7 linked regions of the Homo sapiens genome follow. The protein of the gene in region 5 purifies or fractionates together with the protein of the main gene of each other region. This does not show direct contact. Each region holds a gene or a part of one and is shown on either strand. Other genes may lie near its edges. The genes, in order: GPC1, ZC3H18, CWC22, TCOF1, CAMKV, ACIN1 and AP3B1.

Evidence for each region.
Region 1: the proteins of CAMKV (region 5) and GPC1 purify together in Homo sapiens (affinity purification with mass spectrometry; 4 studies listed by BioGRID and IntAct, with this or other methods). This does not show direct contact.
Region 2: the proteins of CAMKV (region 5) and ZC3H18 purify together in Homo sapiens (affinity purification with mass spectrometry; 4 studies listed by BioGRID and IntAct, with this or other methods). This does not show direct contact.
Region 3: the proteins of CAMKV (region 5) and CWC22 purify together in Homo sapiens (affinity purification with mass spectrometry; 4 studies listed by BioGRID and IntAct, with this or other methods). This does not show direct contact.
Region 4: the proteins of CAMKV (region 5) and TCOF1 purify together in Homo sapiens (affinity purification with mass spectrometry; 4 studies listed by BioGRID and IntAct, with this or other methods). This does not show direct contact.
Region 6: the proteins of CAMKV (region 5) and ACIN1 purify together in Homo sapiens (affinity purification with mass spectrometry; 4 studies listed by BioGRID and IntAct, with this or other methods). This does not show direct contact.
Region 7: the proteins of CAMKV (region 5) and AP3B1 purify together in Homo sapiens (affinity purification with mass spectrometry; 4 studies listed by BioGRID and IntAct, with this or other methods). This does not show direct contact.

What each region holds. Positions count from the first base shown.
Region 1 is NC_000002.12:240,441,908-240,445,993, forward strand, and holds part of GPC1 (glypican-1 precursor), read left to right. Parts: intron 1-4,086. UniProt on the Homo sapiens protein: Cell surface proteoglycan that bears heparan sulfate. Binds, via the heparan sulfate side chains, alpha-4 (V) collagen and participates in Schwann cell myelination.
Region 2 is NC_000016.10:88,621,938-88,626,023, forward strand, and holds part of ZC3H18 (zinc finger CCCH domain-containing protein 18), read left to right. Parts: intron 1-259; coding exon 260-451; intron 452-1,281; coding exon 1,282-1,407; intron 1,408-2,020; coding exon 2,021-2,125; intron 2,126-2,664; coding exon 2,665-2,808; intron 2,809-3,264; coding exon 3,265-3,330; intron 3,331-4,086.
Region 3 is NC_000002.12:179,972,501-179,976,586, forward strand, and holds part of CWC22 (pre-mRNA-splicing factor CWC22 homolog), read right to left. Parts: intron 1,303-4,086; coding exon 1,134-1,302; intron 747-1,133; coding exon 693-746; intron 1-692. UniProt on the Homo sapiens protein: Required for pre-mRNA splicing as component of the spliceosome. As a component of the minor spliceosome, involved in the splicing of U12-type introns in pre-mRNAs. Promotes exon-junction complex (EJC) assembly.
Region 4 is NC_000005.10:150,367,258-150,371,343, reverse strand, and holds part of TCOF1 (treacle protein), read right to left. Parts: intron 3,501-4,086; coding exon 3,427-3,500; intron 2,629-3,426; coding exon 2,442-2,628; intron 1,816-2,441; coding exon 1,742-1,815; intron 1-1,741.
Region 5 is NC_000003.12:49,859,545-49,863,630, forward strand, and holds part of CAMKV (caM kinase-like vesicle-associated protein), read right to left. Parts: exon of another isoform or gene 3,831-4,086; intron 2,859-3,830; 5' UTR 2,845-2,858; coding exon 2,750-2,844; intron 2,633-2,749; coding exon 2,501-2,632; intron 2,322-2,500; coding exon 2,247-2,321; intron 2,034-2,246; coding exon 1,895-2,033; intron 1,757-1,894; coding exon 1,636-1,756; intron 1,475-1,635; coding exon 1,399-1,474; intron 1,309-1,398; coding exon 1,172-1,308; intron 1,006-1,171; coding exon 927-1,005; intron 715-926; coding exon 627-714; intron 338-626; coding exon 1-337. UniProt on the Homo sapiens protein: Does not appear to have detectable kinase activity.
Region 6 is NC_000014.9:23,061,101-23,064,722, forward strand, and holds part of ACIN1 (apoptotic chromatin condensation inducer in the nucleus), read right to left. Parts: intron 3,389-3,622; coding exon 3,255-3,388; intron 3,158-3,254; coding exon 3,005-3,157; intron 2,478-3,004; coding exon 2,336-2,477; intron 1,975-2,335; coding exon 1,829-1,974; intron 1,424-1,828; coding exon 1,316-1,423; intron 1,176-1,315; coding exon 1,068-1,175; intron 523-1,067; coding exon 198-522; intron 85-197; coding exon 1-84.
Region 7 is NC_000005.10:78,112,872-78,116,957, forward strand, and holds part of AP3B1 (AP-3 complex subunit beta-1), read right to left. Parts: intron 3,364-4,086; coding exon 3,255-3,363; intron 1,053-3,254; coding exon 881-1,052; intron 1-880. UniProt on the Homo sapiens protein: Subunit of non-clathrin- and clathrin-associated adaptor protein complex 3 (AP-3) that plays a role in protein sorting in the late-Golgi/trans-Golgi network (TGN) and/or endosomes.

The sequences.
Region 1 (4,086 bases), on a different chromosome or scaffold from region 5:
GGCTGCCCTTGGCCCGCCGTGGGTGGCGGGGAAGTACAGGTGTGAGGGGCATACCCCACTGCCCCAGGCTCGGTAGCAGTCTGGAATCCGGGTGGGTTTAGGAGCCCCTGAGAGGGCCAGGCCAGCCTCACACCATCCCCTCTCCTGCCTGTGGCCTCAGCTCCATCTCCCGCCAGCTCCTGCTGACCCACCTTTCTGGCACACCTGTCCCCTCCCTCCACGGTGTCCTCCCTGTGCCCACCCACAGCACCCGCCTCCTCCGGCCTTTCCCCACAGCTTGACTTCCCGGGCATCGGCCAACACGTACCCTCCCTGTTGCCGGGGCCCCCGCCTGGGCAGGCCTGAGCTCCACACAGGGTGGGGAAGGCCCCGAGTCCCTCCCGGTACCGGGTGGGGCTGGGTGCCGGGGTTGGGAGCACAAGTGTTTCCAGGGCTGTCGGAACAGTGCCACAGGCTGAGCAGCTGCAGCTGCAGACATGGGTCGTCCGTGGTTCTAGAGCCTGGAAGCCTGAGATCAAGTGTGCGTCCACCAGGCTGGCCCCTTCTGAGGCGTGAGGAAGTCTGCTCCACACTGCCAGCTTCCAGGTGTTCCTTGGCTGGTAAATCCCACCTTGGCCTCCACAGGCCGCTCTCCCCGTGTGCGCTTCTGTCTCCGAATTCCCCCTCTTCACAAGGACACAACTCTAATTGGGTCAGGGCCCACCGGTACCATCTCTTCTTAACGAGAGGTGTCACACAGACTCCACACCCAAAGTCACATCCTGAGGAATCGGGGTTAGGCCTCAGCCATGTGGGTTTTGGGGGTACAGTTTAGCCTGTAGTGGGGAGCTAGCCCAGCCCGGCACACCTACATCTTCCCATCAGGTGGCAAAGACCCCGAGGCTCTGGGTGTTTTGTGATTGTGGCCTCCTGAGCACTGGGCCGTGTTTCTGTAATGGGCTTAGAGCTCAGCACAGATGTGCCCGAGACCCTGGTGACAGTGTGAGGGAGTGACCACGCCCCAGCCTGCCACTCACCCCCGTCCACCTGAGGCGCTCTCTGGGCACAGCCTGGTCCCCACAAGCCTGGGAGGCCTCAGCGTCAGGCCCTGCACAGCTACTGGGTCCTTGGCCAGCCCCTCCTGCCGTGGGCCTCCGCTTTTCCCTCAGGTCCGGGTGGCAGGGCCGGGCCACTCAGGTGATGTTCCAGGTCTAGTGGTACAGCAGTGGCTGAGGATGCCGCCGCCTGTGCCGTCACAGAACTGGGGTGGGGGGCAGTGGCCAGGCTGGCCTGAAAACCTTCTCCAGGTTGCGTTGCGGGAGCCCAGGCTGGGAGAGTCGTGGTTCAGTGGTGTGAGTGTGCCTTGGACAGGCCCCAGTCTCCCACTTGTCAGGGGGCAGAGCCCTTCAGGTGGACTTTGGGCGGGGAGGCAGTGGGACTGCAGGGCGAGGGTTTGGAGATGTAGAGATGAGGGAGGCCTGGGGGCCAGGAGGCTGCACCACTGCTGTCTCCTGAGGCGGTGGCTGGCCGAGGAGGCCCGCTGCTCTCTTGTGCTGAGTGCCCCTTGGGTCCTGCAGGCTTGGCAGGGTGACAGGGCAGCCACCCAGGGGCTCCACCTGTCCTGCTCCTTCAGGAGGAGGAGACCTCCCAGGGCTGTGGTGGGGAGGAGGGCCAGCCACAGAGCCACTGCAAATCATCCCTGAGGCCAGGCGACTCGGAAGCAGAAACCCTGAGCCCAGCACGGGGCAGTGGGAGGTGAGGCCCAGCGGCATCTGTGAACTAGGCCTCCTGGTGGGCTCTCAAGGTCTTTGATGGGGCGCAGCCGGTGGACAGGGAGAGAAGGGTCCCTCTTTCCCCAGGCCCTCCCTCCCCTGGTCCTCTCCCACCTTTGAGGTGCCCCAGGAGTTCCCAGAGTCGGCAGCACCAGGGGCTGTCTACCGGGTGGGCTGAATACCACTTAGTTTGCAGATGGGAAAGCTGAGTCCCAGAGAGGGGTTCCCAGGGCTCAGAGCTGAGAGGCCTCGCCGCCTGGGGCCAAGCCCCACACTTGCTTGCCGAGTGACTCACTCCTGCTCTGGGCCTGGCTAGCAGGGGTGAGGCTGGGTCAGAGGATGGGGAGCTGGGCCAAGGCCACAGACTACCCCGCAGGTGCAGGCACCCAGAGGCCTGAGGGGCACCGGGAGCGCACAGGAGGGGAGGCTGTGAACACGGCCCGGCTTCTTTGCAGCTCCGTGTCGGGGCCATGTGAGGACACACACCGCAGGAGGGCCCGGCCAGCCTCAGCCCAGCCCAGCCGCCACGCCCGGTGGGTCTCCTGAGGTCAGAGCCAGCCCCACAGTGGGCACCACATGCCCGCCTGCTGTCCTGGCTCCTCCTGAGGGACAAGGGTGAGCTGGGCGGGCCAGGAAGTACAACGCTGCTAGGCTTCTGCTCTCGCCCCACAGAAGTTCAGGTTCTACTGAGAAACTTGGCTGGGGCTTCCGGGGACTCCCAAATCCAGCCGCCCAGGACCCTGCGGCACTGTCCATCCTGAGCCCCGTCCTCACCCGCTGGTCCATCCTGGGGTGATGGATCTGGCTGCAGTGACCCCGATGCTCTGAGGCCCAGAACAGCACGTCTCCCTCCTGGGAACAGCCAAGCCTTAGGCCCATGCAGCAGCGACCGGATCCCTAGCCTCCCCGGCAGGGGTGCTTCCTGGGTGCGCCATCAGCAGTGGGACCTGTAGGGAAGTCTGTGGCCTGTGCGCACCTTCAGACGATTTCCCCAAACACCGACGACAGCTGTCCAGTGCGTCACAGAGCTGTGGCCTATGGGTGATCGTCTCAGCCTGTCCCTGCATCTGGTGCAGCCTCAGTGCCCACTGTGGACCCCGCAGCCCACCCGTGTCTGGCGCATCCTTGGTGACTGGGGCTCCCTGTGGCTGTCTGATCCCATCCCTGTGGTAACCCATGTGTGACGTCCAAGTGTCTCCTCAAGAACCGGGGCCAGGAGGCCCATCCTTGGCTCTGGAGACTGCAGGGAGAGCATCCCACCCACCTGTGACCATCTACCAGGCCCTGGGGACAAAGCTGATGCCACCTGCCACCAGGGTTGGCTCAGGCGTTTACATGCATCTCCAGTTGTCATGGAGCTTGGGACACACTGGACCCAAGGAGGTATTTTAAAAGGACAAGTCTCTCACGTAATCCAGCCCCACTGTTCCTGAACGCGATGCCCCCTCCCCGAGCCTGGCGGGGGGCTGTACACAGAACACTGCTCAGCATCTTCAGTCTCCCTCCTGTGGCCTCACACCCAGGATGGTAGGTGTTAGAACAGGTGCCTCCCTGTTCTATGTGCGTGGCCTCATCCTGTGGGCAATTTGGGGTGAGGGGTGGCTGCAGGTCAGACAGATACCTGGGAAGGTCCCCTGGGATAGGGTGGCTCCCAAGCGGGAGCAGTTGCCCTGGGCACTTGTGACATCCCAGTGATTGAGGAGTGGGGGTGCTCTGGTGTTTAGTGGGTGGGGCCAGGGAGCCCAGTAATCCTGCAAGATGGAGGTGCCCTTCCACAAACGCCAGTAGCACCCCCAAGAGAAATACTTGAACTGAAGCTATAGGCAGAACCACGCCAGGGGAAGAGGGAGCTCAGGGGAGGGGGCACCACTCAGCGCCAGGTGCTGGGATGGGAGGAAGGGCAGACTGTGGTGGCCAAACACCAGCATGCAGGAGGGTTGTTCTAGATGCATCCATCCTTCTGTGGGTGCACGGATGAGGTTCTGGATGTAATTCATGGGCTTCATGAACTTGGCTGAGAAAGAGATTACATCTCCATCGTTGCTAACCTCTAACCAGAATTTAGCATTTTTTCTTACTCGGAACGATGGTGTTCCGGGACCTGGGGCTTGGTCACCAGTAGACGTCGCCGCTGTTTATGCCCCTCCACGTTCGTAGCAGACAGCTTGGAAAACGGCGTCCTCTCACTGTGACTTTGAATTGTAGTCAGTATTAGGCCCGTTGCGGCTCCTGTGAAACGGCTTCCCGGGGAAGCACGTGCGTTGCCACCTCACAATTCGTTGTATCACATTCTGGTAACTGCTGTGTGATGAGTGCTTCCTCCATGGTCCTCTGT
Region 2 (4,086 bases), on a different chromosome or scaffold from region 5:
TAACTGCCATTCTGGTTCAGGAGAAATCTGGGTGTTCCCCTGAGTAACAGACACTGAGCCAAGGGCCATGGACATCACCCAAGTCCATGGGGTGATGGGTTTTGTGAGTGGCCTTTTTTCCCCTTAGGACCCTTTGTTTCTCAGGTGATCCTTAAATAAGCCAGGTATGAGATCCATAGTCTCTCCCGCTGCTGTCACACCTGGCATTGCTGTGAAGCGGAAGGTGGCCTGAGAGTTGCTAATGCCTCTGTAATTTCAGCCGCCAAGCTGAGCCACCAAAGAAGGAGGCTGCCACCACGGGGCCGCAGGTGAAGAGAGCAGATGAGTGGAAGGACCCTTGGCGCCGATCCAAGTCTCCCAAGAAGAAACTCGGGGTGTCGGTCTCCCCGAGCCGGGCTCGAAGGCGTCGGAAAACATCAGCCTCGTCAGCCTCTGCCTCTAATTCCTCCAGGTAAGGAGGGCTCGTGGGACGGCTGGGGTGTCAGCACCTTGGAGCCGTCAGCTGACACCATGTACCTCACTGGGTCAGGTGGGGAACACCCCAGCCCCACTGTTTGCTGTGGCGTCGTTACCTGCAGACCAGTCAGTGGGACTAACCCGGCGTTTATACCTTCAGCAAAGAGCATCAATGCCAAGTAGGACTGACGCAGTGACCCCAAATGGGGCACAGACCCCGGCGACTGAGCCTGACTGCTCCCAGGGAGTCACAGGCCACACTGGAGGGAGGGGCACCTGGATGCGGGAGGACGCACAGACCTGGGGCCCAGTGAGTCCATCTGTTCCTCCAGACTGGACCTGAAACTGTTGCCCCTCCACCTACGGTCCTGGTCTCAGCACACAGGAGCCCGGCTCCCGAGTGAGGGATGATGGAAAGCAGGGGGCCGGGGTAGACCCCATCATGCTCGGCAGGAACAGGAGGTGTGGGTGGGAGGCCAGGCTTCACTGAAAGTGGATGCAGATGAACAGATAGACACACACACGGACCCACGTGAGCTGGGTCTGCCCACTCAGGCAGCGCCACCCGGTAACAGCAGGCACACCCCACGCCCAGGTCTTGATTTCTAAATGCCGTTCTGCACCAAGGAGGGATGGCACTGAAGAGTGTCTGGGGGAGGCTGTATGCGTCTGTGCGCGCGTCTGCAGCTGTGCGCGCGTGCGCAGCTGTGCGCTTGTGTGTAGCTGTGCGTCTGTGGGTGTGTAGCTGTGCATGTGTGCGTCAGGGCGTGTGGGGCAGGGAGGGCCCTTCTCACTTCTCGCCACGCTCCGTCCCGCCCGCCCCAGGTCGTCTTCGCGGTCATCGTCCTACTCTGGCTCCGGCTCCTCCCGGTCGCGATCCCGGTCTTCATCCTACAGCTCCTACTCCAGCCGCTCTTCCAGACACAGCTCGTTCTCAGGAAGCCGGTCCAGGTATGTCCCCAGGGCCCATGAAGGGCCCTCAGCAGGTGCAGTGAGCAAGGGCACCTGCGGATGTGGCTTTAGTTGTGGCGCCAGTAGCCCCTTGGGGTATTGAAGGTCCCTGCTGGCAGCTGAACTAGGATGGCCAGGGGGTCGTGTCCTGTGTCCCCCACCAAACACCAGCCTTGCGGGCCCTCGTCCTTGTGTAGATGCGTGCTGTCACTGAGGGCCACAGCCTGAGATCCTCGAGTTGAGGCACTCCAGTCCTCCGCAGACAGGCCGAGGAAGGGGCCAGACCCAGCCCTGTCCTGTGGGTGTTTCTATGGGAGCTGTGCTGCTGCCCCACTGCCAAGGAGCCTGTCTCCTCCTGTCCTGCACACACATGAACGTGACACTCGCCTCCCGGAGGACCCGCCAGTGGATGCTGACACCTTCCACGCTCTCTGGTCTACTCTGGGCCTGTGTTTTTAGCAGATGACAGAACAGTCCAGAACTGAAGTTAAAACTGAGGCACATAAATGGAAATTCGTGGCCTTCTCCATGGGTCTGGGTGGGTCCTCAGTGGGCTTGGGCTGGTGAAGAAACACCCCCAGGCCCCTTCCGACACCTTTGTTCACTCCCCTAGGTCCCGGTCCTTCTCTTCGTCCCCGTCCCCGTCCCCAACACCTTCCCCACATAGACCTTCCATCAGAACCAAGGGAGAGCCGGCCCCGCCGCCCGGGAAAGCAGGGTGAGTGCCCAGCCTGTGGGCAAGTCCTGGCCGGCCAGGCCTCCACAGGCTGCAGCCTCCTCCCTCCGTCTCTATCTCTCATTTGTGTTTGGGACCAAAGAGGTGAGGATGCCTCAGGGGGCTGGCCCCAGGGGGTGACTGGGCTGGGAGGCACTGGGCACAGCTCCTGTTCTCACGGGCCACCCTTACACAGCAGCACTCCCTCGGGAACCCTGGGGACAGAGCACAGCCCTGGGGACACGGCAGCAGCCGGGTGTTCTTAAGGGGTCTTCCTATTAGCCTGCTCTCCCCACTGCCTGGCGGTGCCTGTAGCTCTTGCCTGTTAGAGGGGAGCCTGGAAGGGCTGCTGGGGGCTTTGAAGCCGTTCCCAAGCACTCTGACACCGATGGGTGGGGAGCCGTGTCCAGGCACGAGCGTGCTCACCGAGCGTCACAGGCATGCAGTGTCGTTCCCCGAGCTGTGGGTCCATTGAAAGGGGATGTAGGCCAGCGGGGCCCCGTCCACCAGCCCTGCCCTGCTCGAGCCTCCCTGTCTCACAGAGAGAAGTCAGTGAAGAAGCCGGCCCCGCCTCCAGCCCCACCACAGGCCACCAAAACCACTGCTCCTGTCCCCGAGCCCACCAAGCCAGGAGACCCTCGGGAAGCCAGGAGGAAGGAGCGGCCAGCCAGGACCCCCCCCAGGAGGTGAGCACTCCGGCGTCCGGGGCCCTCAGGCTTTCCGTGTTCTTGGTGCCACTGTGATGCTGGCACTGCTGGAAATCCAGAGTGCCAGGGTCCAGAGCCAGGTGGTGGGAAGCGCCCCCTAGCCGAGCAGCACCCAGTGAGCCCTTACCCGGGAACCTGCCCTGTCCCCTCCCTGAGCCTGTGTTTCTGGAGCGTGAAGGGGAAGGGACAGCGTGGCACGGAGCACAGGCCTTCCCGCCATGGCCCCGTCTGCACTGGAAGGTGCTGCCCCCGAGAGACTGTACTTTTTATCTTGACAAAACACTGAGCCTAAAGGAAGACAGGCCCAGGCCCTGTTCCAAGGTGGTAGCAAGGCCAGTCTGGAGGCTCACCTCACAGGGCTGCTGGTGGGGAGGGGAGGCCGCGAGGGGCTGTGGAGGCCACGCCCCCTGAGCCCCGCTGTTGCTTGTATTACAGGCGGACGCTAAGCGGCAGCGGCAGTGGCAGTGGTAGCAGCTATAGTGGTTCCAGCTCCCGATCCAGGTCATCCCCATCACCCTGTGCCTCTGTTTCTCCCTCCCCGTCGGGGCCAGGAAGTCCCAGAAGCAGCCAGTGTGGGTTGGGCTGTCTCCCACAGGTGGGCTGGGGCCCTTCTGGATCTGAGTCACCCTGGGGCTGTGGAAGGCTGCGGTTGAAGCTTTGACACAGGAGAAAATGGGCCAGGACTCGTGATAGGAAGACCCCCTCCCCCCACCAAAAAAAGATTCACAAACTCGGGGGCACTCAGGTCAGGAGGAGGTGCCTCTGCCCTGCTGACTTGATGCCCAGCACCCTGAGAGAGCACCTGCACCTGGGGAGGAGCCGGCAGCTTCCAGCCCAGCAGGGCAGAGGCTGGGCCTGCGTGACCTATCACACCTGTCGAGGGAACCGGCCTGAGGGGGTGGGGAAGCCGATAAAAACATCTGAGAAGAGAATACATGGAAAAGCTTTGTGGGCCAGGTGCGGCGGCTCACACCTGTGATCCCAGCACCGTGGGAGGCCAAGGCAGGAGGATTGCTTGAGCCCAGGACTTGACCAGCCTGAGCAACATAGACCCCATCTCCACAGAAAAAGATTTTTTTTTTTTTTTTTTTTTTTGAGACAGTTTCATTCTTGTTGCCCAGGCTGGAGTGCAATGGCGCGATCTCGCTACCTCCGCCTCCCGGATTCAACCTCAGCCCCCTGAGTAGCTGAGACTACAGGCGCACACTGCCACGCCCAGCTAATTTTCTGTATTTTAGTAGAGATGGGGTTTCACCA
Region 3 (4,086 bases), on a different chromosome or scaffold from region 5:
AGAGGTTTTTGTAGAATATCAGATATTTATTAGATTCTCATGAACAGCAGGGAATGAAGTGGAGGAGATACCAACTTTATTGTTTTATAAAAATGAAGGGAATGGTTCTTCAAAGGAATGGTTTGCAGTCAAGTAACCATGTACAGTATTAAGTCAGATTAATTTGATAAATATCTAAAGTGTTTTGATCAGCATCAAAGTGTTATATTAAAGAATATTAAATATGGCCAGGCGTGGTGGCTCACACCTGTAATCTCAACACTTTGGGAGGCCGAGGCTGGTGGATCACGAGTTCAGGAGATCGAGACCATCCTGGCTAACATGGTGAAACCCCGTCTCTACTAAAAATACAAAAAAAACTAGCCGGGCGTGGTGGCAGGTGCCCGTAGTCCCAGCTACTCGGGAGGCTGAGGCAGGAGAATGGTGTGAACCCAGGAGGCAGAGCTTGCAGTGAGCCAAGATTGTGCCACTGCACTCCAGCCTGGGCGACAGAGTGAGACTCCATCTCAAAAAAAGAAAAAAAAAAAGAACATTAAATATATTTATTATAGTTTTAAAATGAAAATATCATCCAACATTTTTATCCCAAGGACTATAAAGCAAAGCAAAAATAGAGAGGTATCAGTGAAGTGGCATCAACCCTCTGGTCTAATGCCACTGAATGGGACCAAGTATTGAAGATAATTACTTACCACATTTTGGTTAATAAGATGCGCCACAAATTTTGAAGCAGTCAGGCAAAGTTGCTGAAAAATAAAGGTGGAAAGTTAACCTATAAACTAAACCCAATTTTCATTTATTTACATAATCTATGGCCTACTAACATCATCTATTTAAAACATGTACCACACAAGTATAATTTTTACATTATAAGAAAGTTACAAAATAAAACACATGAAAGAGTATCCCTTCTGGTTAAATAGTTATAGTTCTACAGTTATAGCCATCATTTTTGTGGCTCATCAATAGTGGCCAGGGATATTTAACAGATCAAAGAAGTTCTCATGAAAGACAGTTTTTAAAAAGCATTATGTTATGTAGCTGTGTCAAAATCAACCTTGCTTACTTTTGTTGATACTGGTTTGTTAGTTTGTTCCTATGTATCATTCTACTTACAAGCCATTCATATATACCTTGTCATTTCTTCGATAGCCTTTTCGAAAATTAAGAATTAACCTTTTGAGGATTAATTCTCCAATTTGTGGAAATTTTGAGTTGATAATTGCCACTAATGCTGCATAAACATGGGTGAAGATTGGAGAAGCACTCTGTGCTTGCAAAACAGACCTGGACAGCAGTCCTCTGTTTAAAAAAGAATTTAAAAAGGAGTCAACAATAATCACCAAATTAATTAAACGAAACAAAAACTATTAAAATTCAGTAATATTTCTCTATAAGTAATCATAAAATCTAAATCAGAACTAACTGGAAAGAGTTTGTCTTACTAATAAATAAAAATTGTTTTTCAGAAAACGAAATGTGAATTTGTGATTTTGTAAAATAGAATGAAGATTTTACTGCAATTTATCACCAAAATTTTTCTCTCTACATATAATTCCTCTTTTCCCAGTCTGTTATATCTAATCATGAATTTGAACCTTAAAAAGGTTCATATAAATAATTTCTTTAACATTTTTTAAAAAGTAAACAAAAGCAGACCTGCTTCAAAAGTATAAAAGGTAGATAACATAAAGTTTCTACTACAGATCTGTCATTTTTATAAAATTAATTTTGTGATTAAAGACAAATTTGGGTTTAAATCTTTAAGTCTAATTTTAGTAGAATAAAATGAAGATGTGGAATACTCCTGTGAGAAATAAAGAAACGAATTAAAAGCAATGCCAGATTAATGCTAAAACAGTAACAGGAAATTAAAAGGTACCTACTTGTAACTCATTTTGAAAATGGTCATGTTTCTATATGCATTTGATGAGGAAGGGGAAAGGCAAATTGGGCAAACTAAAGTTACTTTTAGCAATGTAATGACAAGTAATTATTGGATTGCCAAAAGTCAGGAAAAAAAGTCTTAATGGTAGTTTTAGATATGACAACTGAATCACTAGAGTGGAAAATAAGAAAAAGGATGCAGCTTATAAATTATAGTATCTTTAGCAATCCATAACTCTTCTAAGTCTACTTTTTTTCTAAGTAAATTGGAGAGATCTCTGCCCACTTTTGAGGATAATGGCTGTCTCTTGATCAACTTTCTCTACCTCTAAAACTTGCTGCTCCTACTTTATACCCCCACCTTTTTTGGAGAGGTTGGGGAGAGACAGGGTCTCACTCTGTCACCCAGGCAGGAGTGCAGTGGGGCGATCTTGGCTCACTGGAAGCTCTGCCTCCTGGGCTCAAGCAATCCTCCCACCTCAGCCTCCGGAGGAGCTGGGACTACTGTGTGCCACCACGCCCAGCTAATTTTTGTATTTTTCATAGAGACAGGTTTTCACAATGTTGCCCAGGCAACTCCTGGACTCAAGTGGTCCTCTTGCCTCAGGCTCCCAAAGTGCTAGGATTACAGGCTAGGATTACAGCGACCGTGCCTGGCCACTACATTCCATATTTTTTTAAAGATGAATCATAGTCATGTAAAATGACATGAGAAAACAGCCCTCAGATTTTAAAATAATAAATACAACATGGAGTAATTCTATTTTCTGACCCTTTTAAATATCACCAATTGCTTAAAGCCACATATTCTTATAGAATACGGTGATTCCCTTCTGCTTTTCTAAAATGTATTGCTCATCTTTCCCATTTCTCTCACATTCCCATTTCACTCTCACTAGAAATTAAATTGGAATAAAGGCCATATATGACGAACCCATAGCTAATATACTCAACGGTGACAAGCTGAAAGCTTTTCCTCTAGGATCAGGAATAAGAAAAGGGTGCCTACTCTTTCCAATTCTATTCAACATAGTACTAGAAGTCCTAGCCAGAGCCATTAGGCAAGAGAAAGAAATAAAAGGTATCCAAATCAAAAATAGAGAAGCCTGTTTGCTGTAAACAGGATCTTAATATAGAAAACCCTAAAGACTTAACCAAAAAATTGTTAGAACTAATAAACTAATTTAGTAAAGCTGCAGACACAAAATCAACATACAAAAATCAGTAGTGCTTCCATATGCTTACAATGAACTATCTTTCTGAAAAATCAAGAAAACATCCCATTTACAATAGCTATGAAAAAAAAAGTTAGGAATAAATCTAACCATGGAGATGAAAGAGCTGTACACTAAAAACTACAAATTGCTGATGAAAAAATGGAAGAACATGCATGACATCCCATGTCCATGGACTGAAATAATATGTTAAAATGTCCACAGTACCCAAAGCAACATACAGACTGGACTCAATCCCTATCAAAATTCCAGTTACGTTTTTCACAGAAATAGAAAAAACAATCCTAAAACTCACATGGAACCACAAAAAACTCCAAATAGCCACAGCAATCTTGAACAAAAAGAACAAAGCTGGAGGCATCACACTCCCTGACCTGGAATCTGCTACAAAGTTATAGTAATCAAAACAGAATGACAATAGTATAAAAACAGACACATAGAGCTACAGAGAACAAAGAAACCAGAGATAAATCCAGACATTGGCAGTCAACTGATTTTCGACAAAGATGCTAAGAAGACACAATAGGGAAAAGACAGTGTCTTCAATAAATGGTGCCAAGAAAACAGAATACCCAGATGCAGAAGAATGAAAATAGACCTTAGTCCCACAGCATATACAAACATCAACGCAAAACAGATTAAAGACTTAAACATTAGACCTGAAACTGTGAAACTACTATAAGTTTCTAAAAGAAAAATACAAAGGAAAAGCTCTGAGACACTGGTATGGTTAATGATTTTTTGGATATGACCCCTAAAGCACAGGCAACAAAAGCAAAAAGAGACAAATGGGATTACATAAAACTAGAATGCTTCTGCACAGCACAGGAAAATATCAACAGAGTGAAGAGATGACCTACAGAATGGGAGAAAACATTTGCAAACATACACCTGATAAGGGGTTAATATCCAAAACACATTAGGCATTCAACTCAATAGTAAGAAAACAAATAACCCAATCTAA
Region 4 (4,086 bases), on a different chromosome or scaffold from region 5:
GGGGTGACAGAAGCCAGGGATGTCCTTACAGCTGGTGGTATCTAGGGCGCAAGGGTGAGGACGGAAGGTGGAGGGCAGCCCTTGGTAAGGCCTGGGGTAGATGGGGGTGAGCTTTCAACCTTCACAGGGTTACTGGGCCAGGCAGCACAGTAAAGTGAGAAGTTCCCTGGGCACCAGATCAGTTCATCCCTGACTTGTGCTGGTTTTCCCTTGAAAACATCTTTCCAACTGTGGACACCTTGGTCTCCCAGCCCCCAGCCTCTTATGCCAGTATCAGTATTACTCCAATAGTCTCCTACATGGTCTTACTGCTTTTATTCTGCACTGCCCTCCAACCCAGGCTGCAGCCAGCAATCTTATTAAATGCAAATCAGGCCATCTCTCCTTGCTGGCATGGCTTCTCACAGCCCCTAGAATAAAACCCAAATTCCTTATGGTGGTCCTCAAGGTCAGACAGAAGATCTGGCCCCTGTCTACCTAGGACTTCATCTTGTGTCACTTTCCCCATAATTTATTTGTTTTTTTAAAAAATAACATCTTGTAGAGACAGGGTTTCACTATGTTGCTCAGGCTGGGTTCAAACTTCTGGCCTCAAATGATCCTCCTGCCTTGGCCTCCCAGAGTGCTGCACTTACAGGTGCGAGCCACCGTGCCTGGTTTCTCCCTCTCATTTAAAGATCAAGGTTTTGGCCAGGCGTGGCGGCTCATGCCTGTAATCCCAGCACTTTGGGAGGCCAAGGCACATGGACCACTTGAGGTCAGGAGTTCGAGACTAGCCTGGCCAACATGGTGAAACCCTGTCTCCACAAAAAATACAAAAATTAGCCAGGCGTGGTGGCGTGCACCTGTAATCCCAGCTACTTGGGAGGCTGAGGCACGACAATCGCTTGAACCCGGGAGGTGGAAGTTGCAGCTAGCCAAGATCGCGCTACTGCACTCCAGCTTGGGTGACACAGTGAGACTGTCTTAAAAAAAGATCAATGTTCTTTAAAAGCACCAAACTCTCTTTGCCGCCTTCTCTGCACATGCCATTCCTTCTGCTTACGCCTACTCATCAACGTCAGGTTCCTGCCCTGCGTGGCCCTCTACATTTCCACTTCATAGCAGCCATCACCAATTAAATATCTGAGGGACGCTCCCTTGCCCCATGGCAGCAGGAACTCTGCCTGTCCTGCTCATCACTATATTCCCCAGGTCTGCCACTTAGTAGGTACACAATAAAAAGTAACCTGTGGAGACCTTTTCCAGGTCAAAGTTCACAAACCCAAGAGTCCTGCCCAACTCTAGCCAAGTGTCTAGGCCTGGCATTCACCAGTTGGCCCAGAACCCTCTCAGCAGCCGCAGCCCTAGCCAGACCACGACAGCCACACTGTTGCCTCTGGGCCCTGTTCTTGCCCCATTTCCTGTCTGGAATGCCCTGCCTCCTCCACATCCCTTCCCAGTGAAGCCCACTGTGCTTTGAGGCCCTACTCCAGGGCACCTCTCCCAGGAAGGCTTGTCTAGTCTCACAGGCAGGAGGGTGTCCCTCTCCTGCCCCCAGGGCTGATCTCACACTCAGAGTGCAGCAAGCAGCACCAGACTCCTCTCCCTGCCCCTCTCCGGCTGCAGCCTTTCCAGCTCCTGGTCACCCTACCACAGTTGCTGAACTCATCTGGGCCCACTGGTGTCTGAAGCCCCAGACAGGTTCCTGGAAGGGTTAGAGGCTGGGAGAGGGCAACTCCTAGGGATGGGTGGCAATTACCTCCACGTCTGTCTCATCACTGGAGCTGGAGGTGTCCTCGCTGGAGCTGTCGGCCTGGCCCGCTGACACCATCCCTGAGGATCGGACACGGAGGGGACTGAGGGACTCCCTTTCCAGCCTCACCTGCCCCTCCCCAGCACCTCCCCACAAACCAGCTGCTCATCAAAGCCAGGTGCTGAGCGCTCACCCCTCGTGTGCCTCACATGCACTGAGCTGTGAAGCCCCCTTCTGAGGTGGGTACCATCACCATCCCTATGTTCCCACACATCTCTGAGGCCCTGGGAAGGGCTGTGAGGGGACCCAACAAATATGCACCAGCACCTGACAGTCTACAGAACCTCCATCCACCATCATATCCACTGATGCAGGCCAGACAGATGTCTACTCTACATAGGAAACAGAGGCAAATCAGGCCTTTCAGTTTAGTCTCTGAGCTGCCAGTTGTCCCTGTAACTCACCAGGGAGTCATAAAGCAGAAAATGCTCCAACCACCAGGTGGGCTGTTCAGCCTGAGGCCAGGTCCCTGTAAGCTGACCCTCCCTCGTCTAGGTGATGAGAAAAGTCCTAAGATGCAGGAACCTGGCTGTCCTGGAGACAAACTTTTGATTCCAGAAATGTCCCAGAACTTAAAGCAATGCCTAGGCCTGCCTCACCAGCCCAAGTTCTGGGGACTAGGTTCCTAGAGGTGGGGACTTCTTACCAGGCTTGGCAGCAGCTCCAAAGGCCGGGACGCTGCCCTCCTCCTCAGTTTCTGAGACCAACGTAGTATTTGCTGAGGGCTCTGCTGACTTCCTGGGAGACTTCCCAGAAAGAAGGTTGGCCACCGTCTTCCCAGTGGCAGGGTGTGGCATGGAATTCCCAGTCTTGCCAGCTTTCTCTGTCTCTGCCTACAGAGAACAAGAGTGACAGACACATCTGGTATGGCATGGTGAACTAAGAGCACAGGCCACTTGCATCTGAACCCAATCTTACCACTTCTTAGCTGTGTGAGTTTGGGTAAACTACCCCTTCAATCTGTTTCCCAATCTTTAAAGTGAGGTTAAAAACAGCACCTCCTCTCACCAGAGGTGTTGAGAAAACAGAATCCCAGTTCTTGGGACATGGTAGTTATTTACTAAGTGGTAAGTAGCAGTTTGTTGTTGATCTTATCATTACTTCATAATTACTTTGAGACATTGTTGCTAATGCTCCAGGCAATCGCAGAGGCACAATTCTTTATACATGTATGTATCTAACTCTGCTTTCTGGATTATTAGAAAATGACACCTTGTTTTTTGAGCAGTTTCCAGTTTGGAAAATGCTTTTAGAGTTTCAGAACCACAGATGTCTTGATCACTACGGTGCCTCCACACCTAGCACAGTGCCTGGAACATAACAGGTATTAGTCAAGATCTGTTGAGTGAACGGGTGAACGCAGGCATGAAAGAGGAAAGAAATCGCCTACCCCAGGTGTAGAATGTGCCCAGTGGCCCACTGCAGCAGGCATCATCCTTATCTTTATAGAAAAGTAAACTGAGGCCCAGAGAGGTGAAGGGACTAAGATCCCACAACTGGTGACACAGGTTGAGCTCTGAATCCAGGTGGGGCAATTACTCACAACCCTATCCTTCTCTGACATGTAAGACTGTCCCCTACCAGGCACCTTAAATCCCATAGGCAATAGCTTGGAAGGCAGTCCCACTCACCTTGGCTTTTTCTTTCATGCTTGATGGCAAGTCCGCCCCCAGGACTGAGGAGTTGGTAGATGCTAGTCTTGGGGCTGCAAGAAACAAACATCTGCTAAAGGAGCCAGATGAGCTTTTCTCATCTATGAATGGCAAACAGGTTTCATCTCACCTAACAATTCTATTGGTATTGGCTGCCTGGTGCTGGCATGAGGATCTGAGGCTGAGCCCAGACTTGCAGGAATGAGCTCTGTGATGCATCAGCCAGGTCCACCAGGAGCAAGAGAGAAGAGGATGGTAACATGAAGCTATGTGTCTGCATCCTTGATGGATTCCCAACTCCCCCGCAGCATGAGACGTGGAGGCCCCTGGAGGGAAAAGGACTGGCCCACATTCTTGCTGCCTACTGGGCACTGCACACTGCAATGGGCACCATTCACACAGGCCACCACACTGTAGCCCTGAAAGCTGTTCGGCAAGAAGGGGCAGTGGTCAGGCAGGCAGCCAGCCTCAGGTCCACAGAGAAAGTTGCCTGGAATTCAAATGGCTTCTTAGTGGAGAGGTGGCTGAACCATGCCACCTGGGCCCCGTTAGATATCGATATTCACTGATTCTCAGTGCTTATTTATTTACTGGGACAGAGTCCTGCTCTGTCGCCCAGGCTGGAGTGCAGTGGCACAA
Region 5 (4,086 bases):
TAGCGCTCCTGTCAGTGGCTGGGGTGACACTCCCATCAGTGGCTGGAGTGATGCTTCCATCGGTGGCTGGGGTGACACTGCCATCAGTGGCTGGGGTGGCACTTCCATCTGTGGCTGGGGTGGCACTACGGTCTGCGGGGGCCACATTATCACTCTTTGCAGCACGAGCAGCATCACCCTCAGGGGCTGAGGTAGCTCCACTCGCAGCTGCAGCTGTGGCCCCACCTGCAGCCCCGGGGGTGGCAGTGTCTGTGGCTGAGGCCGACTGGGCTGCAGCCGTGCTGGACTGCTCTGGTGCCCGGAGCCGTTTCATGAGGGTGGTCACTCGGACAGCCTTCTGAAAGGAGCACAGTGGAGAAAGGCTAAGGGTGAGGCTTGCTGGATCCATTGCTTGGCAGTGACCAAACCAAACTCCTTCCATAGTACCCCCGGCCACCTCCATCCACCCCAGGGCCAAGTACTCAGCTGCTCAGCACTCCTACTTAAGGTAATCACAGTGGCTACACCCACACCTGATGGCCTGAGAAAAGCTTGTGTGTGGCTGCAGGGGTGTGATGCAGGCAAGAAACTGAGTGCCAGAAGCAATACTTGGGATAGAGCCAAGAAGGGAGTTATCCAAGCCTTACCTTCCACTTGGCCCTGGCAAAGTTCTTTTCAATCTGGGCACAGACACCATCCTTGATGTTCTTATCAGAAGCAGCATTGCCAGAAATCCTGGAAAGGGTGCAAGTGTGTCTGGATCTGAGAGAATGAGCCTTTGTGGAGACTCTGCTCAGCCCTTCTATGTGGCATCCAGGGACTACCAGGCAGAGCCTCTGGGCTGCCCTGAGCTCTAGGTACCTGCACCCCTTCCAGGCCTCAAAGATGGGGCTGCTGGGTGTGAGGGGGACCCTGGCCTCTCCCACCCTCCCCTGGACCCTGCTCACCACTCATGGGAGATGGCCTCTTCTGCAGTGATCCGCTGGTCTTGCTCCACCTCCATCAGCCTTGTGACCAGGTCTTTGGCTGTGGACAAAACCAAGAAGGGGATAGTCATGGGCACCCCATCTCAATGTCTAGAGGTGATAAATGGGCTGGGGGACAGAAGCAGAATACCACAGAGGAAGATGAGAGCAGGACACCCTCCCCACTCCCTTGCGTTCTACCAAGTGCTGGGCAGGCACCTCCTCACCTGCCTGCGAAATATCATCCCAATATGGAGAGTCAAACTCATAGTCACCAGCCAGGATCTTGCGGAAGAGATTCTTATCATGGTTCTCATAATCATCTTCTTCCACCTCCTCATAGAAAGGTGGATTGCCTGAAAGCCTGCATGGGGGAAGGGTCACACAGAAAGGCCACAGACACATGCCCCCACCCCATCTGACTGCAAGCCTGCTTGTCCATCTGTCCACTCACAGGATGTACATGATGACTCCAATGGCCCAGCAGTCCACAGGGCGTCCATACCGCTGCCGGCCTACCACCTCTGGGGCTACAAACACAGCGCCCATCTGCTGGTCAGTATCAGGCCTAGCCAGGTCCAGTACCATCCACACCAGCTTCCTGAGATGAGCACATTTTCCCCCTGCCCAGAGCAGCTCCCTGAAGGCTGCCCCCCATTATCCCCCTGCCCCTGCCCCACCCCCTGCTTGCCCAGATACTCGGGGGTCCCACAGGGCTCCTTGATGAGGCCATTTTCTAGCTTAGCCAGATGGAAGTCACTGATGACAATCTTCGAGTTCTTCAGCCGGTTGTAGTAAACCAGGTTCTCCAGCTGTGGTGTGAGAATAGCATGTGGGTGAGCAGAAGACACCATGAGGACCTTGGAGGCTAGACCAAGGCCCTGAGGTGCTGCCCACCCCAGCACCAGCCCAGCTGCCAACTGGCCCTTTGACTCTGGCTCTGCCCTCACCTTGAGATTCCTGTGCACGATCTTGAGTGAGTGCAAATAGGCCACGGCCTCCAGGACTTGCCGTACCACGTTGCTTGTGTCTCGCTCCGAGTAGTAGCCCTGGTCCAGGATCCAGTCAAACACCTCCCTCCCCGTGGCCCTGAGGGACACCAGCCCCTGAGCCTGGCGTGGGCAGAATCAGGGGTAGGGCAGGAGCACTTGGGTGAGCTGCCTACGCCAGGCAGCTGGCTGAGCAAGGCACAGGGACCTGGGACGCCAAGGGTCCAGAAAGGGGGTTTCCTTAGCTGCAGAGGGTGGGACAGGTGAAAGCCCTGGGCGCTGGGGAATCTTGGGTCCCCAGACCCACACTCACAGCTCCAGGAAGATAAAGTACTCCTTGCGGGTCACAAACACATCCACCAGCTGTAGGATGTTGGGATGCTTCACCCTGGCGACAGGGAGGGGAGCCAGTAGTTAGGGCTGGATGAACCCCTGGGAGAGGCTGTGGTCACCACAGTGGCCACAGCAGACTAATTGGCCAGAGGCTGGGACTGCCTGAGGCCACTTGCCCTCTAAGCCCTTCCCTGCTGCCTCCCACCCCGCCCCAATCCCAGGCCTCAAACTCACATCTTGAGGATGCCTATCTCGTTCTTGGCAGCTTTCCGCACCTTGCGGCCGTCCCGCTTCTGGAACTTCTTGCAGGTGTGCAGCTTGCCTGTCGTCTTGTCCTTGGCCCGGAAGATTTCACAAAACTCCTCACTGCAGCCGACAGGCACCCACTCAGGCCTGGCCTTAGCATCAGCTGCACTCCACTGCCACTTCCCTAGCCCCTGCTCACCAGCCCACCCAGCCTTGCCTGACAGGCCCGGCACTCACGTCTTGATGACCTGTCCCAAATCATATCTGTCAGTCACCTCCGATGGCTGGTTATAGTTCTTCTTGTCGCCCAGAGTCACACACCCAAACGGCATTGCCAGGCTCTAACCTGCGGGCACAATGGGGTCTGGCTTAGCTGTACTACTCTCCACTTCCCCACAACATAGGGGCTGCTTTTGGGAGACCCCAACCTGGCTCAGGCCAAGCTAGGGGCAGAGACCATACCAGGAGGGGCTAGAGGATAGGCAGGCTTAGATCCTACCCCTGCTTTTCTGGCTAGACATCCAGCTACTCAGCTTGGCTGCCTGAAGTGCAACAGCCTACATATGAAAAAATGTATTAAGCTGATATATAAGGGAATAGTTTTGTATTCTATACATTCAAAAAAAAGGCTTATCAAACAGTTTATTTAAATTTCAGCTATTTTACAGATGAAGGGGGCTATAACCACCCACCCACCTGCTAGTCATCTCTGAAGGTCTAGAGCTAACAAGTGTTAGTGGATATATGAAGAACGTGAGCACTGCTAGGAGAGGGCAAACTCCCCTTTGTAAAGCAGTTTGGTAAAACCACTAAAGTCAAACAAACATACCCTATGAACCAGCAATTGCACTCCTAAATACGTGCCTACAGAAGTGCACATATTCGTGCATCAGGACAGTCATACAATGCTCATAGTAGCCATATACATAATCGCCAAAAATTGAAAACAGACCAAATACCACCACCAACAGGATGTATTGTGGTAGAGTCACACAATGGAATATTATATAGCAATGGAAACAAAGGAGCTACAGCTATACCCAACCACCTGGTGACTCTTACACAGTGTTAAGTGCAAAAAGACACAAAAGAATACATATAGTATGAGTCTATTGATAGAGTTCAAACAGGCAGAACAAACCCGTAAGGGGGATACAAACACAGCAGTAGAGCTATAAAGAAAAGCTAGGAAATAAGCAGAGTCAGATAATGGTCCCTTCTAAGAGAAAAGGAGGGGTTATGATTGATTCAGGACACATGGGGGGATTCTGGAAGACCTATTTCTTTTCTTTTCTTTTCTTTCTTTCTTTCTTTTTTTAGAGACAAGTCTCACTATGTTGCCCAGGCTGGAGTGCAGTGGCTATTCATGGGCACAAGCCCACTACTGATCAGCACAGGAGTTTTGACCTGCTTCGTCTCTGACCTTGGTTGCTTCACCCCTCCTTTAGGCAACCTGATGAGCTCTAGCTCCCAGGAAGTCACCATACTAATGCCAAACTTAGTGTAGACACCCAACTGGCATAGCGCACTGCAGCCCAGAGCTCCTGAACTCAAACGATCCTCCCACCGCAGCT
Region 6 (3,622 bases), on a different chromosome or scaffold from region 5:
GGAGCCAATAGATGCAGGGAGCTGCCTTGGTCTTTCGGAAAAGGTCATCCAGCAGCTTGGCAGGTGGTTCCTCCTGGGCTTTCTCTGAGGTGGAAAAAAGTGAACCAGATATGATGCATCTGACCCTCTGTCCCATCCCATCTGGGTCCCTTTCCCACCTACTAGTGGGTATGCGTACCCCATAGCTAAGTACCTACCTTTCTTCTCACTCTTCTTTTCTTTAGACTTCGCACGTTCCTTGCGGCGGCGGTCACGGGACCTTGATCGGGAACGGGGCCCTTCTCGAACTTTGTCCCGATCCCATTCACGCTCTGATCGAGTCCGCTCCCGCCGCTCCATTTCCCGTTCCCGTTCTGCCCACTGTTCCCGCACTGCCCGTTCCTGCTCCCGCTGCTCTGCCCGGGGGTGCTGTGGTGGCTGGACCGGGGGTGGGGGTGGGGGGTGCAGGGGCCGTGGTATTCCCTGCTCCTCTGTCTTAGTTTCAGAGGGACGGTCCACCAAGAGGCCTCGGTGATAATCCAGCTGTGGGGAGAGGAGGGACAAGGACAGTTAGGATAGAGGTGATATCACTCCCACTCAAGGAGCCAGGATGGCCGGGCGCGGTGGCTCACGCCTGTAATCCCAGCACTTTGGGAGGCCAAGGCGGTCAGATCACGAGGTCAGGAGACCGAGACCATCCTGGCTGACACGGTGAAACCCCGTCTCTACTGAAAATACAAAAAAATTAGCCGGGCGTGGTGGCGGGCGCCTGTAGTCCCAGCTATTCGGGAGGCTGAGGCAGGAGAATGGCGTGAACCCGGAAGGCGGAGCTTGCAGTGAGCTGAGATCGCGCCACTGCACTCCAGCCTGGGAGACAGCGAGACTCTGTCTCAAAAAAAAAAAAAAAAAAAAAAGGAGCCCAGGTACCACTTTGAAGCCCCATGGTACAATTAAAGGAACCAAAGCCAGGGAAGAAGAGAAAAGAACAGAAGCTCAGAGACTGCAGGTCTGGCAAGGATCTCAGCTGAAATCTAGCAGATAATGGCTTCCCCTGCCCCTCCTCTCTTTCCTCTCCCTAGGTTTCTTACCTCATCTTGCTCGGCATAGTCAGCACAAAGGAATTTGGGATTGGACTGGGGCCATTTGACCCCGTGCAGAGCTGTGCGGGTGGCAACAGCTTCCTCTACTGTTGAGTACTGGTGGAGGAAGGGAGAAGATGGAGGGTCACAGTGTGTCTGCAACCCTTCCCACGTGCTGCAACACCCTTAAACCTGCCCACACTGGTCACAAAAGGAAATATATGCCATGACCTATAGAATCAGCTTCTTCCCCTCACCGTTACAAAGCAATGAGATTTGATCTTGTCAATCCAGAAGGCCTCTTCCACCAAGGTTCCTGTGCGCCCCAACAACTCCTTTAGCTGGCCTAAAGTGAAAGGACGGACCTGCCAATGAAAATAGACTTTCAGGGTCTAGCAGAAGGCAAGACCACCACCCAATCTTTAGATTTCCCGAGCTGCTGTCACAGGAGTATAGTTTCAAGGTTTGGGGGAGGGCAGAGAGTTTAGGAACCTTGCAGTAAGAATGTGAGAAGAGTGGTGGTGCTTCCCAGCACTAATTGAGACGTTGTATGTGAGGCCTTCTGCAAGTCCTCAAAACAACCCTGCAGGGCAACAGCTTTTCCCCCTCATTTTTAGATGGGTAAATATGTTAAGTAACTCACTCAAGATCAGTGAGTAACTTAATCTATTGGTAGACCAGTTCAACTATGAGTGGAACCTAGGAGGCATAAGCCTAAAGCTCAAACTTAACCACTAAGCAAGCTGGGATGGTGAGAAACAATGACTTACCAAATTGGAGATATGGACAATGTTGCTAATCTTGCCCCGGGGTGGGGAGGGCACCTGGGCAGTTCGGACTGGGTCATCAATGGTAATGGAAACTCCGGACTTCTGCTGGCTAATGGAACGTCGAGTTAAGGTATCTCCTAAAGTCACTATCAAGAAGACCACAAGAACAGCTTTTGGTAGGAAGCAATACTGGCTCTTTTCACCCTCAATGTAACTCTCACGGTTCCCTTTCTTTTATACCAAGCAGCCACTCCTTAATCTAAACGTGCAGAGCACCTATAATCTGCAAAGTACTGTGCTAGGCTAACCTCCTCATCATGGAGATTCAAAGATTAAACAGAGTCAAATCTGGCCCTCAAGTAGCTTACTTAATATGTAGGAGAAAGATATGATATACGAAAAAATATAATGAAAGGCAGGAAACATTCAAAGCTTTCAGCGATCCAAATGAGGTGCTCTGAGAATTCAGGGAGCCGCATTACATTTCTCTCACAATATGTCACTCACCTTTCTTTACTTCATGCTCTGCAGGTGGGGGCAAGGCCACCTCTACTGACACCTGGGGAGGTACAGGAGGTTCTGCTTCAGGTTCCTTCTCTTCTTCCTCTTCTTCCCTCTGCCCATTCTCCTGGCCCTCTGCAGGTACTACCTATCAAGGTGTCAGAGAACACAGCAGGTCTGTTAAACACCAAACTGGCATATTCTTTTCAGCCTCTGGTTCCCCGGTAAGAGTAGCAGTCAATCTAGCATGTTCCTTCCGCTAGGGGTATTTCGTTATCGGCTCACTTCTACCAGATCCTGGGATTGTTAGTGCCTCAACTTTGCCTTGAGGAAAACTAAGACAGGAGTTAGTAAATTTTTTCTGTAGAGCAAAGCAGTACTTCAGGTTTTGCAGGCCACATAGTTTGTTGCAACTACTCAACTCTGGTGATGTTGTAGTGAACAAACAGCCACAGACAAAAGTGAATGAACTCGTGTGGTTGTGTTCCAATCAAACTTTATTTGTAACAGGTAGCCAGCTGGATTTGGTAGTCTGACCCCTGAAAGTGTCAGTCAACCCAACCCTCTGCACAGACAGGGAAGTTCCCTCCAAAGACTTTATCTCAGCTCCTCAGCTAGCTGCTCTGCATCTACTGCTCCCACCTTTCCCCTGACACTGGGGTGCAGAAGCCTTACCTGAGTGACTGTCCGGCATATTTTCAGCCCCTTGTCATGGGTCCCATCATCGCCATTACGCTCTGTCTCATCCTCAGAGATGCGAGAGTCATCAGCATGAAGATCCACAACAGCCTCCTGCCCCGCCAGGGGTTTGATGTCGGGGATGAGGCTCTGGGACACAGATACCCCCCACCCCGTTACACTGGGCCCATGTCTACTCCCACCTTAACAGGTCTCATCCTCCCTTCCCTGGCTCCTCCCACCTCACCTTTAGTGATTCAGTGGTGATACTGATGGAAGGTTTCTTCTGTGTGGTGGCTGTGCTGGCTCCCCAGCGTCGTTTCCGACCAGGCTGGCCCCCCTCTGTGTCACTGTTTCCAGCTGGCACCCCCTTGGTAGCTGCTGTCCCCAAGAAATAGACCCAACAGTTAGATGGTCTCAGGACCTCTGCTAGTTCAAACCGTAATACCTACAGGTTACCTCTGGCTGGAGTTTTGGTAAAAGGTTAACTTAAAGAAATCATATTTGGAGGCTGAGTGTGGTGGCTCACACCTGTAATCCCAGCACTTTGGGAGGCCAAGGCGGGTGGATCACGAGGTCAGGAGTTTGAGACTAGCCTGACCAACATGGTGAAAC
Region 7 (4,086 bases), on a different chromosome or scaffold from region 5:
AAGCCTGTATTAATTTAACCTACAGATTTCATTTGTTCTGAACAGGAAAAACAATATAAATCACTTTTAAAATCATTAAATCCTGACTTAAATTAATAAAGTCATAATTAGGGCATTATGCTGTGTTTGTTATGGAAGTGGCAGGGAGAGCTGCTTTAATTACTGTCTGTAATAAAAGGAGCAGAGAGCGTACTGCGCCCCAATCAGTGCTGTCAGCCACGACTGAGCCGGGCTGCAAGCTCATCAAGTGAGCGGGCAGCAGGCTCCCGGGGAAAGGACCATCATGTCGGCAGAGGCCACTCGCTGACAGCAGCGGGGAAAACAGAGTTGCACAATCCAAGATATTAGACCCAATTACTCAAAATTTTAATGACACTTTAATACATGATAATGTTATTGATAATGGGAGATCTTAAAAAGTGCTAACACTTAAAGATCTTATGACCGTCTTCCTTCACAGCCCTTGACTCTAATATTTGGATCATAATCTTTTTAATATAACATTATTTAGAAAAATCAATTGTCTTGGTTACATAATGGCAAAGTGTTGAAGGATTTAATTTTAGCCCTCAGCAAAATCGCTACAAAAGGTAATTAAGTGTTTCATACCTATTGCTTGATCACTTAACTCAGCCTTCCAAGGTTATACCAATTTTCAAAATGTAACCCCAAGATATGTTCAAGTTCAAAATGAAAGCTAAGCATTACAAGTAGGAAAATAATGTGAACAACTAGCACTTTAATTTTAAAAAGATTTAATATCTGGAAAAAAATACACACTTTTTTTCTCTCACCATTTTTTGATTAATAAGAAACATCTCTGCCTGGGGCAAACTTTCACAGAATATTTTTTGAAGGAAATTCTGACAAAATAAGTTACCTTTTTCCTTTGGCTTTTGAGTTCCTCTTGGCTGTTCTTTTGTTTTCTAGGCCTGACTCCCGTCCACTCTCACTGTCCTGCTCACTGGAGGAGTCCTCACTGCTGTCCTCATTGCTGTCTCCTTCCTCCCCACTTTCGCCTTGTTCTCCACTTTCACTTCCAGATTCACTCTCTGAAAAACAGAACCAGATGTTCTTAGATTTATAGTCATTTAATTAGACACACGGACACCTGTAACTGTCAATATTCATCACAAATGAAACCAGATGTTGAATTTTAGTTCAGTGGACACCACTTGTTTAACATTTTATTCCCACACCCCATTCTTTCAGCTCTATGGATTCCTTTAGCACTGTGAGCTTGGAGGGAGGCAGACAGAGGATGCTCTGACAACGAGGAGAGAAAAGCTAAGCAAAGGTGAACCAAGTAAACCAAATTTGAGGGAATCTCACTTCAAACCCCAAAGTATATAGCTATGTCAAAAACTTTCTTTTAAAGAATTACGTAAGGATTGATGTAAGGCTAAAGAAATAATTTTGAATTCTTCTGCTTGTAATGGGAAATTCTATTTAGAGTAAAAGAAGGCAACAGTTGAATCTTCTTAGGAACAAATTTTGAGAGGAAAATGAGCCATTCAAATCACTTGGAAAGACCTCCAAATTCAAAGACAATAGGCAAAATGACTAATTAAAGAGTTATTACTTATTCGAGCTAGTAAACGAGTTTTCCATAGGTCAAAGAGATGATCAAGTTACACTGAGGAATTATACTTTTAAATGTTTTATGTGTAAATTATGGTATGCTAGGACTGTTCGCAGAAGAGAATACATGAAGAATATATGTGTATTTTTTAAGTGAAGCATAATTTTTACTATTTAAAATGACTATAACTACAGAGTTGTGTCCCAGACAAAAGGACAAACTGTTGCCCTGCCTGTGATCTATGTAACGAAGCCCTCTTAGGCAGGAACATAACCTTTAATTAAACATTCTAATGGTTAAATAATACCAACATCAGGAAGGTCCATCACAGTGAAAACCTAGGACTGCCTGTATTGTTTTAAGACGGCTTACAAGGGGTACAAGCATGGGTTCTCAAGTTAGTGTTCGGATTCAGATCCTGGCTCTTCTACTTGCCAGTTGTAAAACTGAACAAGTTATTCAACTTCTCTGGGTTTTGGTTTCCTTTTCAGCAAATGGGGATAACACTAGTTACTTTTCAGAGCTGTTGTGAAGATTAAATGATTTGAAACATACAAAGGAGATTAGAACACAACAGGGTCTGCCACAGGGTAAGGCACTCATCATTATCATCATTTACAAACAGGAAAGTTTATTTTACTAAAATAAAGCTACTAAATAAGGACATTTTAGATTTGTGGTAATATCCAAGTTACACGCACATACATATTAAGTCAGATAACTGGCTTATGCTATAAACAATGAAAGAAATTACAGGTAATGTATCACAGATTAATTTATCAGATACTAAAAACAAAGATTTTTGATAAGGAAGACAGAGAAAAGAAGAGTGAATTACCTTACAGTAGGGTAGCAGATAACCATGTAAGAGTGACAGGCCCTGGTTCTCCAAGGAATAAAGATTTTAGAGAAAGTTGGGTGTCGTTTGGTCTTGGGTCAGATTTGCCTATTAGCTTAAGTGTTAATAAGAGCATCAGAAAGTGACTACAATCTATTTTTCATTATGCAAATCACTCACAGAATTTTAGCAATGAAGGGACTTTAAGAAATATTTAACTGTACCCCTTCATTTATCTGATATAGAGAAAAGTAGGTGCCTTATTCAATTTGCATAGGTAAAAGCCAGGGCCTCTAAATCCTTCCTATTAAGCATTCTTTTCACTGCATATAGTTACCCTCAACCTTTAGTTTGATTTTTTTATAGTATATAGAGACTTAATAATTTTAGCTTTATCTCTATAGAGGTTCACAGAAAGAGATAAGTATAAAATGAAAGAGAAAAAGACTCTTCAAGGTATAAAATAAACTTTACGTTTTTGTAAAAGAAAGTTACTTTTAAAGACCCCACTAAAAGTTCATCAAGTGTAAAATTATGTTTTTCAATAGATATATTAGGCATTGTGGTTTAGAATTCAGAAAAGTATGAGTTCCTGTTTCAGCTATACCAATGTATCAGCTACTATCCAAGAGATATTGTAAAGTAAAAAGAGAATTTAGTAATTAAAAATTACTTTGAAAACTAAAGAGTGATATATAAATGAAAGGGATTATTTTGATAATACAAACTTCACTTAAAACTACCTGCTGAATATTATGGATTAGGCCTTGTTTCTGAGATATAGAATGTAATCTACTATGTAAATAATATATGCCAATAAATTATAAAACCCACCACTGTCACTGCTACTATCAGAAGAGTCCTCCTCTTCCTCAGATTCAGAATAAAACTTCTTAGCAGAATTCTCTTGCTTTGCTTTTCCTGCTGGGGTCCATTCTTTTGCCTGTTTAAACAAATAAAGTAAATATAAATGAATTCTCATTCAGAGATTTAGAGTTCTGGCAAACTTAATCATTAACAACATAACTGAATTCAAAAGCAAGCTTAAGGCCTCCACAGGGAATGCAACTGTTAGAAGTCCTGGCATTAAGGCTGATTCACTTTACTCCTAAATACAACAACACAAACTCTCACTCAGAGGCCCTATGTTAAACCAACAATCTTATTTTAAATATACAATTTTTAAAACTTTTGTGTTTTTTGGCCCACAGAAGATTTAAACAAAAGTAATATATCCTAAAATAGGTGAGCGAAACTAGAAGCAGATACAATAACAGCAATAACAAACACAAGTTGATAGCTTGACACTGAGGGAAAAGAGAGAAAAAAAAAAAGAAAGAAAAGAAAATATTTAGTGTAGGCAATAAATTGCCCTAACCATCTCAACAGCCTAAATCCTGGAGTAATCCTTGACTTCTCTTTTTTTCTCATATCCTAAACATCTAAGCCATCAAGAAATCCTGTAGCTACCCTGGTCTGACCCACCCTTCTCTCCTGGACTACTCGTTACCTTGCTTCTACTGCCCCTCCACCCTGCCCCCAGCAAACAAACTTTGCAAAACACAGCATCTAGAATGATTATATTAAAACCTAAATGAGAGCAAGCTCCTTTTTGGCCTGAAACCCTGCAGTGGCTCCCCATTTTACTCAGAGAAAAAGCCGAAGT